Linked DNA regions of Homo sapiens: region 2 is linked to region 1. Evidence: fine-mapped expression QTL. A gene starts in region 1. The other region holds a variant in brackets. All regions are shown on one strand. Distances are between the middles of the regions.

Region 1 (9,381 bases):
CATCCTTGGCTGAGTCTCAGCCCACCTCTGCTCGGCCCTCCCTGCTGACCCTGCCCCAGTTAGCTCAGCCTCACTGCTGGGTTTCTATCTCAGCCCCAAGCCCATCCTTCCACAGTGTGCAGGGGAGGGGCCTCTGCAGACACATTTCTCCCTTGCTAGGAGCTTCCTGTTAGGCTCTGCCAATGGGAGTTCTGGAAGAAGAAGGGAAGGCTGGAGTCGGGGGAGAGGACACTGCTCTTCCCGCCTGCTTCTCCTTTTTCTTAGTACTACCCTAGCAATGGCCTGCACCCCAGCAGCACTAACTGCTTCCTGTCTTGGGGTGTGTGTGTGTGTGTGTGTTTCCCTACTCCCAGACCAGCTTATTGTTGCCCCCAGAGGAAACAGCGCCAGCGGGCAGTGCCCTCTTCTCAGAGATCCACACCTTGGCTCCCAGGGCCCCTCCTCCCTGCTTCTGGGCTGAGAGCCCCACATGCTTCCCTCTGCTTCCCCAGCCCAAGAGGTGGTGCTCCTTCCTGCAGTTACTACCCGTGCTGCCTCAGTTTCCCCCTTTTCCTCTTCCAGTCCTCTAGCACCAGTGTCATTCACATCCTACTGAAATCCTCACTGTTGAAATGCCGAGTAGAGTTGCTGGTTTTTGCCTGGCCCCTGACTTATGTAGTCCTTGGTACCAGGAGTGGTCTTAAAACATGGACCCTCCAGGATGGTTTGGAACTGGTTTGGTGTGTCTTGCCCTGAACACAGGGCTGGGCTCCTCCCAGTGGGAAATGGGTCCTGGTGCTCTGTGGCATGTGCTGGGGTCACGCGGCAGGTGACTGAACTCCTGAGGTGCCGGGACCAGCCGGGCAGGGCCCCTTCCTCAGGGGTCCGGATCCCAGCTCCCTGGGTCTCTTCAAGCTTCTGACAACCCCGACCTCTGCCCGCCAATCTGTGTCAACTCAATGCTGCCTTCTTGCTTCCTCAGTTCTCCAACACTTGATGAAGCAATTCCATACATTAAAATTTCTCTGCTGAAATGACGACTGCGTTTTCTGTCTTCCCGACTGTGCCTTGAACACTTCTTTTCTCTTCTTTTTTCTCCCGGCTGTTATCCACCCAGTGGGTGGCATCAACAGGTGGACCCCCATGACACAGTGCCTCCATCTTGGCAAACCTTCACACAAACCCCACTGAGGATTCCTTCATAGCCTACCCATCTCCACGGTCAGCCCTAACCCACCTTCCCACTCTCTCCCTAGTAATCCCTTACCCCAAATCTGGGCTCTGCATTCCTGTTCGCCCAGTCCCTGGAAATTCCTCAAGGCCACCTCCTTCCAGGTACCCCTAGACCAAATTCAAATCCTGTCCATTCTCTGCAAGGAAAGCTCAAAGAATACCCTTCCTGCACAGCCTCTGAAGGCCATCTCTCCCTCCTTCATCTTTATCTGTGTGGCTAACGTGGATCGTTGCTCAGTGGTAGCGCACGATGTGATGTCAGAGCAACCCTCCCAGGAGGCTCTATTACCATCTCCATGTATATCAAGAGGCAGCATATTATGGTACTTAAGGGCACAGACTCTGGAGCCAGACTCCAGCTCCATCACTTTCTAGCTGTGTGAGTTTAAATCAGTTACTTAACCTCTCTGTGCCTCAGCTGCAACATGTATAACCTAAGATAATCATAGCACCTACCCCACAGAATTGTTATGAGGATTTAATGAGTTAATATGCACAGTGCCTGGCATATATAAGTACTATTTAAGTGTTTTTTTAAAAGTAAACAAAATACAGATCAATGTCAAATGTTGTTTTCTTTCTTCTCCAGAACCAGAACAAGTAGCAGCTGTGCCTGGAGGCATTTCCCCGCATCTGGCACACAAAGGGCATTCACTTTGTGTTCGCTGTGTTAGAACGTATCACACGCATCTTAGTTCTTCCTTGAGTGCAACTGACTCATGCTTGCAGGCCCACTGCACCTTGCACGGTGACTCTGACGTAGTAGGTGCTCAGCGAGTATCTGTTCAATGCATAAACACTTGAACTGAACGTCAGGTCCTTCAATGACCAGTTATGTGAGAGAAAAAACAGAGTAACTCAGTTTAAACAGTAGGGCTGTGGGTCATGGATGGAAAAATAAAACCAATGGCATGTGTGTGGTGGGGGTGGGTGGACAGGTGTCAGAGGGGGCTGATTTCTGGGCTGAGGTCTTTTGGTCCCTGGAAACTTCCAAGAGGAAATGCTGTGGAATCCCTGAAAAGAGGCTGCAGATTGAGGCGCAGGCTGGAGTTCAGGAGCCACTAACTAGGCAGTGGCTGCACTCAGGTGAAAGAACTACCCAAGGGAGTTGGGGGTAAAGAAGGGCACAAAGAGGCCGGGCATAGTGGGTGGCTCACGCCTGTAATCCCAGCACTTTGGGAGGCTGAGGCAGGTGGATCACTTGAGGTCTGGAGTTCAAGACCAGCCTGACCAACTGGTGAAACCCCATCTCTACTAAAAATACAAAAATTAACTGGGCATGGTGGTGTGTGCCTGTATCCCCGGCTGCTCGGGAGGCTGAGGCAGGGAATCATTTAAACCCAGGAGGTGGAAGTTGCAGTGAGCTAAGGTTGTGCACCACTGCACTCCAGCCTGGGAGACAGAGTGAAATTACGCCTCAAAAAAAAAGGTCCGGGCACAGTGACTCACGCCTGTAATCCCAGCACTTTGGGAGGCCGAGGCGGGCAGATCACCTGACGTCAGGAGTTCAAGACCAGCCTGGCTAACATGGTGAAACCCAGTCTCCACTAAAAAATACAAAAAATTAGCTGGGTATGGTGGTGGGCGCCTGTAATCCCAGCTACTTGGGAGGCTGAGGCAGAAGAATCGCTTGAACCCAGGAGGTGGAGGTTGCAGTGAGCTGAGATTGTGCCATTGCACTCCAGCTTAGGCAATGAGAGTGAAACTCCGTCTCAAAAAAAAAAAAAAAAAAAATAGAAGGACACAGAGGAGCACTACTTGAGGACAGAGTAGCTTGGGCTAAAGCCCTGGAAATCAGATTGGGACCCAGGGTCTGGATCATACAGCTCTGCCACTTCCAGCTCTGTGACCCATGGCAAATGTTCTCATTTTTCTGGGCCTCAGTTGCCTCATCTGTAAATGAGGATGGCAATAATGCCAATCCCACAGGGTTGCTATGAGGATTCAATGAGACCACCTGTATTGAGGGTCTAGCAGAGCTGATGCACCCAAAGCGCCAGTAAGTTAGCTCCATGATGAAAACCGAATTTAAAAAGAACCCAGAGAGAAGCCCATTTAAAAAAAAAAGTAACTTCAGAAAATAATGTTCCCACCTTATCCATAAGGAAATTAAAGCTCAAAAAGTGCTTCGTCCAAGATGACACAGCCAATAAGAGGAACAGGCAAAATTACTTTTGTTACACAACACTGCCTCCTCTGGTGCTCTGGAAACTGGAGATTCTCCTGAGAACCATTAATTTATTTTGCTCCAGTATGATTCAGTTACTACTGTCAGTCATCTTTCTGTGTGACCCTTTTATTTTCAAATTATAAAAGCCATTAAAAATATTATCATTTATTCTCAGTCTGGAAGAGGGGAATTTTTTAAAACAGGAATCTCTTTTTCTCTATATAATTTCTCACCACTTCTTTCCTGAGCTGGCCAGGGAAGCCTGGAAAGGTCACAGGTTTCAACAGAAACACGAGTTAAGAGTTTTGGAGTTGGCCAGATCTAGGGGCTGAAATCCTGCATAGGGCCTTCACTAGGGGTTGACCTTGGCTGACATCTCTCAGTGCCTCAGTAAGATCAGAACAATCCAGTACCTGGCCGGGCGCAGTGGCTCATGCCTGTAATCCCAGCACTTTGGGAGGCCGAGGTGGGTGGATCACCTGAAGTCAGGAGTTCGAGACCAGTCTGGCCAACATGGTGAAACCCCAGCTCTATTAAAAATACAAAAAAAAATTAGCCGGGCATGGTGGCTTGCGCCTGTAATCCCAGCTACTTGGGAGGCTGAGGCAGGGGAATTGCTTGAACCAGGGAGGTGGAGGTTGCAGTGAGCCGAGATTGCGCCACTGCCCTCCAGCCTGGGCAACAGCGTGAGACTCCGTCTCAAAAAAAAAAAAAAAAAAGAAAAACAATCCAGTACCTAGCCCAGTGTGCTATGGTGAGACGATTACATGAAATATGTGTGCTTCACATGCAGTAAGCACTCAGTAACATGCATATGTGTTTCGCAGTCTATAATCCAAAATATTGTTTTTCTAAATGTGCAGACTGATACAAGGGGTACACTACAAATGTGCATGCCACATATTCACATATTCATCCATTCTAAAAGTATTTATTGAGTACCTACTATGTTCCAGGCATTGTTCTGGGTGCTTGGGATGTATCAGTCAACAAAACAAAGATTCCTGCCTTTGGGAGACTCAACATTTATGCCCTTCTTGGAGTGGGGCAGCACAGTAACTTTGGGTCTTAAAGACAACACACAAGTGCCTTTTGCAAACTCTGGTCACTACACTCAGGTCACCGTTATCAGAGGGGGTGAGGTCGGGGGAAAAATCCCATAGTAAAGACTACCAAAGTCACTGATGCCTAACTTTGGGGTACAGTATATGTTTAGCTGAAGCACTCAAGGTTTGCTTAAGCTTTGTTTGTTTTGTTTTGTTTTAACAAGTCTGCTTCTCCAGAGTTGTAACTAGTGATTTTTTAACGAGTCACCTCAACTGGTGAAGGTGGTCTCAGAGTATGTGACAGGGAGCAGGGGGAAATCCACTGGAGCTGCGAAGTGCCCTGGAAGATCATTCTTCCACGCCTAACGTAATTTACTGTATCAGTAATTGCAGTAACTCGCCTTTGGGAGAGAGAAAGGAAAAGGTAGGCAATTTAGGTGAACAAAAGCTCTGGATGAATTATGAAGGCTCTGGACTCCAGAGACCACCGTATTCAAGCGCAAGTTTTCAGACTCACCTGCCAGGATGCATTTGGCTGCCAGCTTCACCATGGTAACCAACACTCCCGCGAGCCGTACCCAGAGGACAAGAGCGGCTGCTAGAGACGCGAGTGGGTGGGCTTCGGGCCCTGGGCTGGCCTGGGACGGGAAGGTGGGGAGGGGAGGGCTGATCTCAAGGGTCAGTGGCCGCGACGGGACTGGGGATGACCGAGCCCGGCCCTTCTGGGCCGGGGGCGGATATCGGGCGCTGGGGGCGGGTGGGCAGGGGAGGGCTCCAGGTGGGCCCGGCTCGAGGCCTGACACGGCAGTCTGAAAAGGTGCAAGCGAGCGGACACGGCCTGTGCTCCCCGCCCAGCCCCTCAGCACAGCCCTACCCAGAGGGTTCAAGGAAGGACGATCCGGCTCTCCTCCGATCACAAGTACCGGGCCGGATGCACTCTCCAAGCAACCATAGCCCACCTGCCCCGCCTCCTCCTCCTCCTCGCTGACCCTCGATTGGTTGCCGCCAAAAGCTCCCACCCTCAAGGTCTCACAAAAATCCAATGGGAGTAGAGAGCTGGGATAACAGCCTTTTCTTGAGATGCAATTCGTAGAGTTATCAGTTCTTCAAGTTCAGTCTGCTTGACGAGTGGTTGTAATTGACGTCAACCAGCTTTATATCCCGCCCCCGCTGCGCCTGAGAGTCCCGAGATAAAGAAGCCTCCACGTCAAGCAGTCAGAAGCGGTGACAAGAGAAGCTTTCTGATTGGTCAGAGTCTGGCTTGACCCATCTTCGGGAGGAATAGGGATTCGCCACTCCCGCTGTCCTTCTAGAAGTGGGTTCGCCTACAATGGGGCAGGTTGGGCTCTAGGCGGTCTGGAGCGGCGCCTGCGCAGTGGGCCAGGCCGCCGCTGTAGAGGTCGTTTTGACTTGCTCTGACTTCGCGCGGTTCTCGCGGCTTCCCCGGTTCCCGGGTTCTGCACAGCGCGGCTATTAAAGTGCATGGAGAAGTGCAGTCCTTGCCCCGCATCCCGCAGGGAAATCTCATTTTAAAAGCTCAAAGATGTAATGAGCGTTAAAATCTAAAATATGAAGGTGTTTTATTAAAGTGATGTTTGTGAACAAAGGGAGAACAAATACACTTTGATGGGGCTAAGCGGTGAGACTCGGAAACTTGAAGTCGTACTTTGCTCTTAGTCCATTTACTCTCTGCAAAAGGAGAATGCATCACTAACCTCGTTTGCCCGTCACCCAGGGAGGCTCTCTGTACGCGTTTACTGGGTTGGGGGTGCCTCTTGCACGTGGTTAGGGGGTCAGAGACCTAAATCCCTGGCCTGGACAAGTCACCTCATCCCTCAGCCTCAGGATGGGCCTAGGAGAACCCGCCTTGTGGGGTGGTTGTGGAGATGGAAGGAGAGAAACGTATGAGTGCCTGGGAGATAGTAGGTGCACACGTGATTGTGGGGTGGATGGGAGAGCGGAAGCTTATCTGGACAGATTTGGTTTATCATCACTGTCACTGGTTGGCCGAATGTACCCCTTGTTCTCACTTTCTCAGGGCCCCTGGGATTCTGATGGCTGATGCTGAAGGGAAGAGCAGCCCCTCAGCAAAGGTGCCTGTGCGAAAGTTCCACATTCCCTCCAGACACCTAGAACATTCCACCTCTCCGCCACTCTGCATCTCAGAGTGGCTGCCAGCCTTGTGTGGGGGAATAAACACACACACTCTATGAATGGCTGATGGTTTCAGCCCCGAATCCAGAGTAAATGCAAGTTGTCTGAGATGTTCTTTCCTTGGGATTCATTCCTGGCGCTACGGTAAAGGTCTGTTTCTCCTTCATTTCTCGTAACTGCTTTTCTTCTTTGGTGACATCACGTGAGTCTGTCTCAGACATCCAGGTCTGAGTGAGCAAAAAGCCTCTTTCTGGTCTTCTGCCTTCCTCTTGCCGGCTCCCCTCCAGGCCAACCTGTTCACCATGAGTGACCCTGTTAATCCCTTAAAGGACCCCATTTGGTGAGTCACCCTCCCGAGGCAGCTCCACGTAGCTAAGACACAGACACACATCAGGGCAGCCTCCGAAGCCTTGGTTCCTTCATTTTGCGAGGTGGGTAATGACAGAGCCGGAGCATAGCCATCTTGGACAAGCACTGCCATTTTAAAGTTCTCCTTGATCAAAAACGGCCTAAATTCAACCCAAAGGGCATCAGCCTAATGGCTAATGTCAGAATGACCATAAACCACAAGTGACATCTCCAATCAGAAACATTCCAACCCTAAGATAAACCCACCCCCCGACCAGAGACATGCAGCCCCAAGATAACCTCCCCTCTGGTCAGAGAGATGTCAGCCCCAACATAACCCACCCTCAGACCGGAGACATTCCAACCCCACAGTAAACTTCTCCTCCACACAGAAACATTCCAAGCCTGTGGTAAGCTCTCTTGCCCTAAACCCTTAAATACTCTTAGTCTGTAAGAGAGAGCACTCCTGACTGAAATTGGCCAGAAGCCCCTCTCAGGTTTATGCTCCAAAATAAACCTGTATTTAACTGTTGAGCCACTTTTCATGTTTCTTGCCTCTTTCTTTAACTCTTGCAGGTAATAATCACACCTCCCTCCCAGGGCTGTTCTCTGTTCCCCACCCACTGTCTCCCTTTTGTTGCTGCTACTCTGTGTGATTTTAGTCAGCATTATCATAAGAGCATTGTAGAACTTTCTAGAGAGATGGTAAACACTTGTATGGTGAATTCTGTCCCCCTTCACCTCATGGACCCAAGGGCCTTCTATACATTTCTGTGACTGAAGGTAAGCTGAATGAGAGTCACTAGGTTTAAGGTGGTCAGAGAATTTTGGAGCCATGGGGGCTCCTGAGCAATTCGAGTTATCCCATTTCTGAGCAGCTCTAATAGTCACAGCTGGCCTATGTTGACCACAGACTTAAGGCTGGCCTTGTTCTAAGTGATTTTAGGGATTAATTAGTTTAATTTCACATTTACATTTGATATTCACAATAACCATGTATCATCCCCATTTGATAGATGGGGAAACTAGGGCCCAAATGAGATTAAGTGAAACACCGAAGGTCACCTAGCTAGTGAGTAGCAGAGATGGATTTGAACTCCTTCTCACCCTTCCTAAAGAGCAAATACTTATTGAGTTCCTTGCCGTAATAACTTGCGTTGATTGAGCATTAGATGTGAGGCATCTGCTAAGCACTTCACATCCTCTCTCCTGTATGAAACCATGACCCTGGGAAGTGGAAACTCTCATTCATTTGAAGAAAGGAAAGAGCCACAGAGAGGCCAAGGTCATGCAACAAGTCAGCCAGATCCAGAACCAGCCTCAGATCTCTTGACTCTGGGGACCAATGTTTGTTTCTTTGTTTTCCCCCATTATCCAGCATAGTCTCTCCATTTTCATTAATTAGCTTTTCTTGAGTGCCTACCATCAGCCAGGCATGGTGTTGGTTGCTGGATCCACTGAAGGGTGGGGATGACAGAGCCCCAGGCTTTACCTCTGGGTGAGATATCACGGCAATGTGGGAATACGGGCCCAGGGTTGCACACTTTTCTAGAGGAGCCAGGAATCTGGATTTTTGTGTGAAATCCCCTGACCTGTTAGTGTTGGCAATGAACTTAAATTTAAAACACTGTAGCTGCAGTAGAAACCTCTGTTGACCGGTTCAACCTGGGGGCTGCTCATCTACGATCTTTGGTAAAGAAAGGAAGACCAACATGTGGACAAGTCACTGTGCCACAGGTGGATATGGGACTCCCTATGTACACCTCGAGGAGCATTCCTAACCCTGGGTGGATGGAGAGGGAGTCGGGAAGGATATTCTGAAAGGAGAGCCTTGTAGGAATTTGCGAGGTGGACACAGGGGAAGGCAAATGCTGGGTGGATGGGTCAGCACATGCAAAGGCTCAGAGCTCTGGGAGGGCAGCAGATGGAACACACGGTGGAATGGCAAGACCCAGAGTAGAACCCTTGTTTGAGGAATTAATTCAACAAATATTCTGTTGAGTGCTTGCTAAGCACTAGGACGTAGAGGTGGACAGAACCATCTAGCCCAGTGGAGCGGCAGATGATCAAGCAGTAATGATCTATGATTGCATGTAGTCAATGTTGAATAGGGGAGGATGTGGTGCAGAAAGAACAAATACCCTATGCTCTGATCCCTGGACTGGCACACCAGCATCACCTGGGGATTAGTAAGAAATGCATTTTCCCAGGCCCCACCCCTGACCAGCTGAACACTGGAGGTGGAGCCCACAATCTGCTTCCATAAGGCCTCCTGGTGACTCCGACACAAGCTCATGTTGAGAACTGCTTTTCTTAGCTAATGCCAGGACCCACCTTTATCTACTCTATTGGGTCATTTTACTGTTTTTCAAGCTCCTCGGGAACGTTCCCACCGCAGGGCCTTTGTACGCACTGTTCCCAATGAGGCTGTATGACTCTCCTTCATGATCT
Region 2 (8,000 bases), 95 kb before region 1:
CTGGATCAGCCTCAGCGAATGCCCTGGAAAAATGGTAGGGACCTAATTTCCCTGAGCTGCCTGATGGAGCTTGCCTCTCTTTCTGCTTCTTCTAATATTGTGTGTGTGTGTGTGTGTGTGTGTGTGTGTGTGTGTTTTAAAAATCTTTTGTCAGCAGCAAATTCATCTGAAATTGCAGCAAGAATAATACTTCGGTGTCACCTCTACTCTTCTCTGGTTCTAACAATCTTACAGTATCAAACAGCCCCTGCTTCAGAAGAAAAATAATAATGAATGACTTAAAATAACTCTGCTGAAGAAAATGAAGGTTTGATTTGAATTGCAGAGGGAACGACTCCCTTTTTGTCCCCCTCTCTCTTCATTTCCTGAAGAAGGCTTTCAGAATCTGCAAGATCCTTCTGCATTCAAAGATTCTGAGAGTCAAGAAAAACCAGGGCCAAATTATTTGATCTGAAAGTATATTTATCCCCATCATTCCAAAATACCACCAAATATCACCTAAGGAATAGGAAGCATTGGTGTGTGTCCATCTCTATTCTTCTCTAAGAAGCCTTAAGCTTTCTCGGGTCCACGGGAAAGGATGCGGTTTCCCCACCACTGCACTGCCTGGATGGGTGTGTCTTCCTCTGGGGTGGGTCAGAGAGGTCCATATGCTACAGAAGCCTATTACAAGCTTATCTCATTAATCACAGTGATTCATGCCGATAAAAAGGAATTTTTGGGAGAATGCAGATTTAACCCATTGTGGCCTTATCGGATCAGATTCATTATAACTCCATGCCTAGGTCCCCAAAGGAGATAGCAGGTCACGAGTGTATGCTTCAACAGAAACCCTCCTTAACCCACGTGGGCATAAATGAAGCTGAAATTACCAGAGAAATATACACTGGCATGTGTTGAGCCTGTGGTGCCGTTCAACCAAATGAAGTTCCATGGTTTAATATATTTCTCCATAGAGTGTCACAGCAGACAAGGTTGTGAATTGCACATTCCAGTTTTGCTCTTTGAAGATAGTTCTATTCAACCAAGTAGCCAATAGGAGTTCAGCTGATTAATAAAAGTACATTCTTTTTAAGTATAATTTTGAGTATTGTTGTGGTTTGACTGCCCCATGATTGCAAAGATTTCAACAAAGCCAGCTTGGAAGCTGCTAAAATGAACTTATTACTCAGCTTTTATTTACAAAATGTATTTTGAGGCTTCAAGTGTTGCAGAGATGCCAATGGTCGCAAAGGAGAGAGAATTGGTATTGAATCTGGTGGTATGCTGAAACCCCAAGGGAGGGCAGCTGCTCACCAGCCTGGCATTCTAGGTAAAATGAGGCCACGTAAAATGATGGAATGGTTATCTTCCCAAACGCCAATTTGTGTTGGTTTGCAAAGTGCTGAAGAATGAATGACACCCCGTCCTGGCTGAAATTTATGTCACACAATTTGGGGTAGGAGGAGGAAAGCCTATTTTCAGTCTAATGTTACAAGGGGAGACAGCAAGTCAATGGAATTAGGAGGAAATGGCCAGAACCTAGTAGCTCAATTTTTAACCCCAGGGTGAATCAAAGCAGCTTCCCCATTCCCCTTCCTCTCTGACCTTAGGGATCAGCCCACTCTCTCTATTACCTTCTACTACCCTCTCTCTACACACATTCACATTTGACCCAGTTCCCCCTTCTAACCAAAGACTCGACCCAATTCTCAAGCCTTCTCCCCCACAGTTCTGACCCAATTCTCTCATCATTTCCACAAAGACGTGACCCAATTTGCCTCCATCCTTCCCCCAGCACATGCGATAACATTCCCCCTACAGCTCCCACACTACGGATATGACCTCATTTCCACCCCCATGCCAGTCACTCACACCTGTTCCCCCTCCATTTCCCCACGATGGCCAGGAGCCACCATGGTTACCTTCTCTTCTTGCACCTAGGACACCACCCCCTTCTCTAAAAACACCAAGGACACAGCTTCCCTTCGGCAGCAGCCTCTTCTTTCCCTGGGTACATTCACAGGGATTTGACCTAATTTTCCCACTTCTCAAACCCTACTTGGCTCATCCATCTCATCGCACACCGTCTTCCCAAGGACACGTGGTTTGTGTCATTGCTGGAATGTCAAGCCCTCTGACACAGCCAATGCTCCCAATCAATGCTCGCAGCACAGCACTGAGTAGGTAGTTACTGCAGCCCCTGGCATGGCCAGAGGAAACGTCACAGCTGGCTGTGCCTTAACTGATACTCAGTTATTAGTTTATTCTTTAAAGAAATCATTTTGTTGGCAGCTTATCTGCCAGCATTTTGGATTTTCTCCCTTCCTTCCTTCCTTCCTTCCTTCCTTCCTTCCTTCCTTCCTTCCTTCCTTCCTTCCTTCCTTTCTTTCTTTCTTTCTTTCTTTCTTTCTTTCCTTCTTTCTTTCTTTCTTTTCTTTAAAAAAGGACATGTGATGAGTTCCGGTGAAGTGTGGTAGGGCTGTCAGTCAGGGGTTAAAGTCCTTTATAAGAAAACATGGGCAGGAGCAAATGTACCGGCCACTGAATGCTGCCCTTTCTATGTCAGTAGGGCTCCTGGAGAGGTTATAGGAGATGGCTCTCTGAGGGCTCTTCATTCATGGCTGCTACCTAATTAAAAAATAAATACGTTTCAATGATCACAAATGATTTTTATTTATCCACTAGGAACCAGATTACAATCAGTTATGCATATGAAATCTACTAAACAGTTTTCAGGTGAAAGGGTATTAAGTTCTATCAACGTTGGGGACTGATTTGGGTGAATAGACTTGGAGGCGATTGGTTGAGGGAAGACTGGAGAGAGCTTTTGTAGCCTTGCTCTCGTTTTTGTAACTGTTCCTCCCTAGGTCACTGCCCACTTACGTGTGATGGAGAAAGAGCCCACTCCAGCTCTCCCTGTTCTCTTAACTTGGCTGAGTTTTGGTGACACTCACGGTGGAACTTGGTTAGAAATAGTTGTTGTTTTGAAAAATTCAGAATTTTTCTTCTAAAATGAAGTAATACACGTTAAAGGTTTTGGACACCGTGAAGAGTTGTTCCAAATGGTAGTTATTCGGATGATAACAATCCCTGTTATCATCACAAGCACCATCTCTGCTGCCACCACCTTCATCATCACCACCTGCATCACAATCATTATCATCACCATCACCACCACCTTCATGATCACCACCACCTGCACCATGGCTATAATTACTACCACCACCATCAGCATCACTACC[A/G]CCACCATCATTATCACCACCATCACCGCCACCTTCAGGATCACTGCCACCTGCATCATGGCTATAATTACCACCACCATCACCACCATCACTACCACCACCATCACCGTCACCACCATTACCACCACCATCACTACCACCACCATCACTGTCACCACCACTACCACCACCATCATCACCACCACCATCACCATCATCAACACCACCACCATCACCACCATCACCACCACCTTCATGATCACTGCCACCTGCATCATGGCTATAATTACCACCGCCATCACCATCATCACTACCACCATCATCACCATCATCACCATTACCACCACCATCACTGCCACCATCACTACCACCATCATCACCATCATCACCACCACCACCATCACCACCATCACCATCACCACTTTCATCACCACCATCTTTATCACAGTCATTATTACCACCATCAATCATCACCACCTTCATGATCACTGCCACCTGCATCATGGTTACAATTACTACCACCACCATCAGCACCACCTTCATGATCACCACCACCTGCATCATGGCTATAATTACTACCACCATCACCACCACTAACACCACCATCATTATCACCACCATCACCACCATCTTCATGATCACTGCCACCACCACCACCATCACCACTACCACCATCACCATCACCACTACCATCACCATCACCACCACCACTACCACCACTTTCATCACCACCATCTTTATCACAACCGTTATTGTCACCATCAATCACCACCACCTTCATGATTACTGCCACCTGCATCATGGTTACAATTACTACCACCACCATCACCATCACTATCACCACCACCACCATCACCATCATCACCACCACCAGCAGCACATCTGAAAAACTCTGATTCTGGCCTTTATGTCTCAGATTCTTTTCTTTTCCTGTCAACTTCTTTATTTATACATTTATCCATTAAAAAGAATGAGAATGAAAAACAGAAAAATTATTCTTTTTTTATTATTCTAAGAATTTGTATCTTTTTCACGAGTAAGTTAGAAGCTAAAGATCTATCTATCATCTATCTGTTCATCTCTCTGCCTATTAATCGATGGATCATTTTCTTTTGCTTGTTGGTTGTATTTCCATGGCTCTTCCCTTTTAGTTTGTCTTCATCCCTCCACCTTCTTTCTGTTGGTTTAGTGCTTAGGGCCTAAAAGTAACTGATGCAGCACCTTAGAATATAGAGAATGCTTCCAAGCCCTCGCAGAGACTGGACTTTTCCTACCTGGTGATAGCATAAGGAAGAGCAACTACATGATTTTTTCTCTTTGTGGGAAAAGGGGCACATCTTTTTATTCAGAGTCGAAAGTTTTTAAAAAGGAAGAAGACAGGGAATTTGAATCTTTGTCAGCACCTGGCTCTTTAGCATAATGATCTGCACATTGTTGACATCCTGTAAATGCTTACTGAATTAAATTTGAGCATCAGCCTTTGGGCAGGAACAGAATTAAATCCATTTTTTGGGGGGCAGCCACTTTTATTCCAAATATATTTTTGGGTTACATTTCTAACTTCTCCCACCCTTTCCTTTTGTCTCTTGTCAAAACTCATCACACTGGTGCTGAAGTAAAGTTGACCATTTGTGTTTGGAATCCATTGGCTGGACTAGGGTTTAAATCCCTGCACCACCAATGACCAACCTGAAAAAGAAATCACTTGACTTCTTTTGGCTTCAGTTCTCTCATCTGTACCACCACCCTGCCATACAGGGTGGTTGTGGGAACTGAATGAAAAAATAAGGACTATACAGTAGATCCCAGAGGATCCAGCCCATGGTAGCTGGAGGCATGGCATGTGTATGTTTCCTGTAGATAATTACTCCCCCCACTCTCTATTGGGTCCATTTCTGGTATGGCCAAAGGATGCCAAGTCTGCATGCTCTCAGGGACCAACTCTCCCTCTACCATCAGCCCATCTTCATGGTGCTCAGCCGTCAGGAGACTCTGAGAATTGAACTAGGGAAGTGTAACAGCAGACCAAGAGGCAGAATTCCTATGTGAATTTCTGCTCCTTTACACACTGCAGGAATGCTACGAGACAGCTCATTTCTAAGCTTGGGAGGGTTCCCACAGCTTGGCTGAGACTTGGGGGAGAAGACGCAGGGCTTGAAGGCCCTTGCAGGAGTGAAGCCAGTGAAGAGACGGAGTCCCAAACCCGACTCCCACCTCTGCCCCTGTTAGCTGTGGGACTCTGGCAAATCGCTTAATCTCTCAGCACCTCCGTTTCCTCCTCTGCAGAATGAGGAAGAGAAGCCTAAAACAGATTTTGCATGGTGGTTGTGGGGATAAAATAAAACCTTTGGTATACAGGAGGGTGCTCAATAGGTAGTGTTTTTCTTCCCTTCCTTTCCTCTCCATCCTCTCCTTCTTTTCAAACATTTCCTTTTTATCTTGTATTCCCCTCCCCCCACCCCACTCCCGACTTCTTCCCAGGTTTCTTGATTCAAATTTAGATATGCTGGCTACTCAATGGTGACTTGTATAGAACCTGAAGTTCTTAGGAGGATGGACACTAAAGAATCCAATAAGTGATAAACGTTTGACTGCATAAACAAGAATAATAACAACACAATTATTTGGGATCATTATTAAATTGTGAGACCAAATGAAGCCAACACAATCAAAATTGAATAGAAAGTCAGTAGAGAGTCACACCCTCTAATTTGTTTGAAGATGCTGCCCTGGTTTATTACTGATGCTCAATCATACAGTTATTTAAAGGAAATCCAGACTGACAATATTAATAATGGTGACAAATCTTCCCGGCATGGACGGCTCTCACTTTCTTTTAATTGAAGGGAAGCTATGGAAGTGTTTTCCTTCATTTAAAAAAAATCTTCCTTTTTTTTTCTCTCAGGCCATCTGTCTGGCTATTAAAATCCCATCAGCTTCATTGCGAGAACGCTTACTTCCCCCATGCCTGCCATCCCAAAGGGGGCTCTTACAGCCAACTAGCTCATGATCGCTCCGGGCCCTCCAAAGGGTAAGTGCATTTGCTCTCAGCGCTTCCTTTGCAGCATCCTGTCTTTCTTTCCTGGCATCTCATTGCTGTATAGACAAGATATTCTGTGATTTATTTCCAGGCCCCCACATTAATACTCTGAAATTAGTTTATATCCATAATTATGTGTTAATTCATTCAACTGTATAAGAAGTAGCTATGTCTCTTCTCAGCAGTTTAGGGTCTAACAAGACAGTGCTGGATCTCTGAAATAAACACCCTCGGGTCAAAGTCCAATACTTCAGGATTAGCCTTTGCTTTATAGATGATGGTGGATGAAGCCCTTGGATCTAAGAGATTGAGTCAGGACTAAGAGTCAGGAAGGAAATGCCTGCATTCTCTCTGACCCAGCACCTGGGTTCCTAAAATCCTACACTATCTCTCTTAGGCTTGTGAGTCATATTATCCCAGCCCTTCCTAAATACCCCAAATCCTTTTTGTCATTATTGTTATGGGAGACAGTCATTCCTGTTATGACAAAACTGCCTTTCCTCCCCCACTCAGGTATGATCATTATGGAGAAATCTTACAGCTTCTTCCAAGAAAACACCTCTTCCTACCAGAGGTAAATCCTTCTATGCTTGGAAGGCTCTAGGGTGGAGAAAGAAATTCCTTCCCTGCTGGTTGACAGGGAGAGCTAATTCCTCTTGTTCTGATGGTGTCTTGGGAGGGGGCATCTCCTGAACACCCTGGAGGAAACCAAAGGGAAAATCCTTCAGTACAAATCAGTGTGTCAACAAGGGAGGCAGCATCTCTCTCTCTCTCCACCCCCCGCGACCCCTGGCTGTCGTCCACACCACCATCCTTTCTAGATGGAGGAATGGGTCAAATTGTAACTAAGAACCGAGTGCTCCCGACGCCTCAGAAAGGCCCTTACAGTCCAGGCGACTTCTGTGAATTGGCCTCTGACCTTCTTTTCACTTTCTATGTCAGTGTCTCTTTTATCACCTAAAGAAAAAAGCTGATGAGTAATGGGGCTGAAGAGCCACCCGTCTCTCCATGTCTTTCAAACCCCGTGGATGGTTTATCAGTAGGAACAACGCTTTTGCAAAGTGAATGGTGGGCCATTGTGGTACCTGAGATGAATTTAGGTGGTATAGGGATGAACATTTAAATAGCTTTAAGCTAAGTATTTTGAAGGCATGTTAAAAATATAACTAGTGAATTGAACCAGTGATTTCTTGGGTACTATTGCTTAGGATGAGGCTCGATTTAAACAGGGGATCGATTTAAAGATACATGTTTGAGGCTGGGTGCAGTGGCTCACACCTGTAATCCCAGAACTTTGGGAGGCCGAGGTGGGTGGATCCCTTGAGCTCAGGAGTTTGAGACCAGCCTGGGCAGCATGGCGAAACCCCATCTCTACAAAAATTCAAAAAAATGAGCCGGTGTGATGGTGCACCCCTGTAGTCTCAGCTCCTCAGGAGGCTCAGGTAGGAGGATCACTTGAGCCCAGTAGGTCAAGGCTGCAGTGAGCCAAGATTGTGCCACTGCCCTCCAGTCTGGGCAACAGAGCGAGACCTTGTCTCAAAAAAAAAAAAAAAACAAAGTAAAAAAAGATATGTGTTTGATTAATAACAGTCCTGATTTAAAACAACAGCACTGTGTTTTGAGCCTTCACTCAGTATGCAACTCCTTTATACAGATTTTATTTTAATTTTTATAACACACTGCTTGAGAAGCATATTTATTTCCGTTTTTGTGTGTGCATGTGGTGGACAGGAAACAGTGGTTCAGAGAGATGAAGC

Which allele goes with the higher level. Alleles are on the strand shown, and positions count from the first base shown. SD is a standard deviation of normalised expression in the study named.
For the expression in fibroblasts of the gene that starts at base 5,391 in region 1, A is the high allele of the variant in region 2 and G is the other (moderate effect, 0.58 SD a copy in GTEx).

The links. PIP is the estimated chance that this variant, and not a neighbour inherited with it, causes the effect.
Region 2: its variant is fine-mapped to the expression of IFT27 in fibroblasts (GTEx, PIP above 0.99).

What each region holds. Positions count from the first base shown.
Region 1 is chr22:36,770,729-36,780,109 of GRCh38, forward strand. IFT27 (intraflagellar transport 27) reads right to left here and starts at 5,391. Exons shown (of 7, transcript NM_001177701.3): 1 at 4,946-5,391. The coding sequence starts at 4,979. RefSeq lists silencers at 4,953-5,012, 5,143-5,192 and enhancers at 5,091-5,654, 5,433-5,692, 6,220-6,783.
Region 2 is chr22:36,676,835-36,684,834 of GRCh38, forward strand. All of the region lies in intron 1 of CACNG2 (calcium voltage-gated channel auxiliary subunit gamma 2), which reads right to left. Among named protein-coding and RNA genes, the nearest start is that of CACNG2, 23 kb to the right of the region's middle. RefSeq lists an enhancer at 7,983-8,000. The variant A/G (reference allele first, on the strand shown) is at 3,225.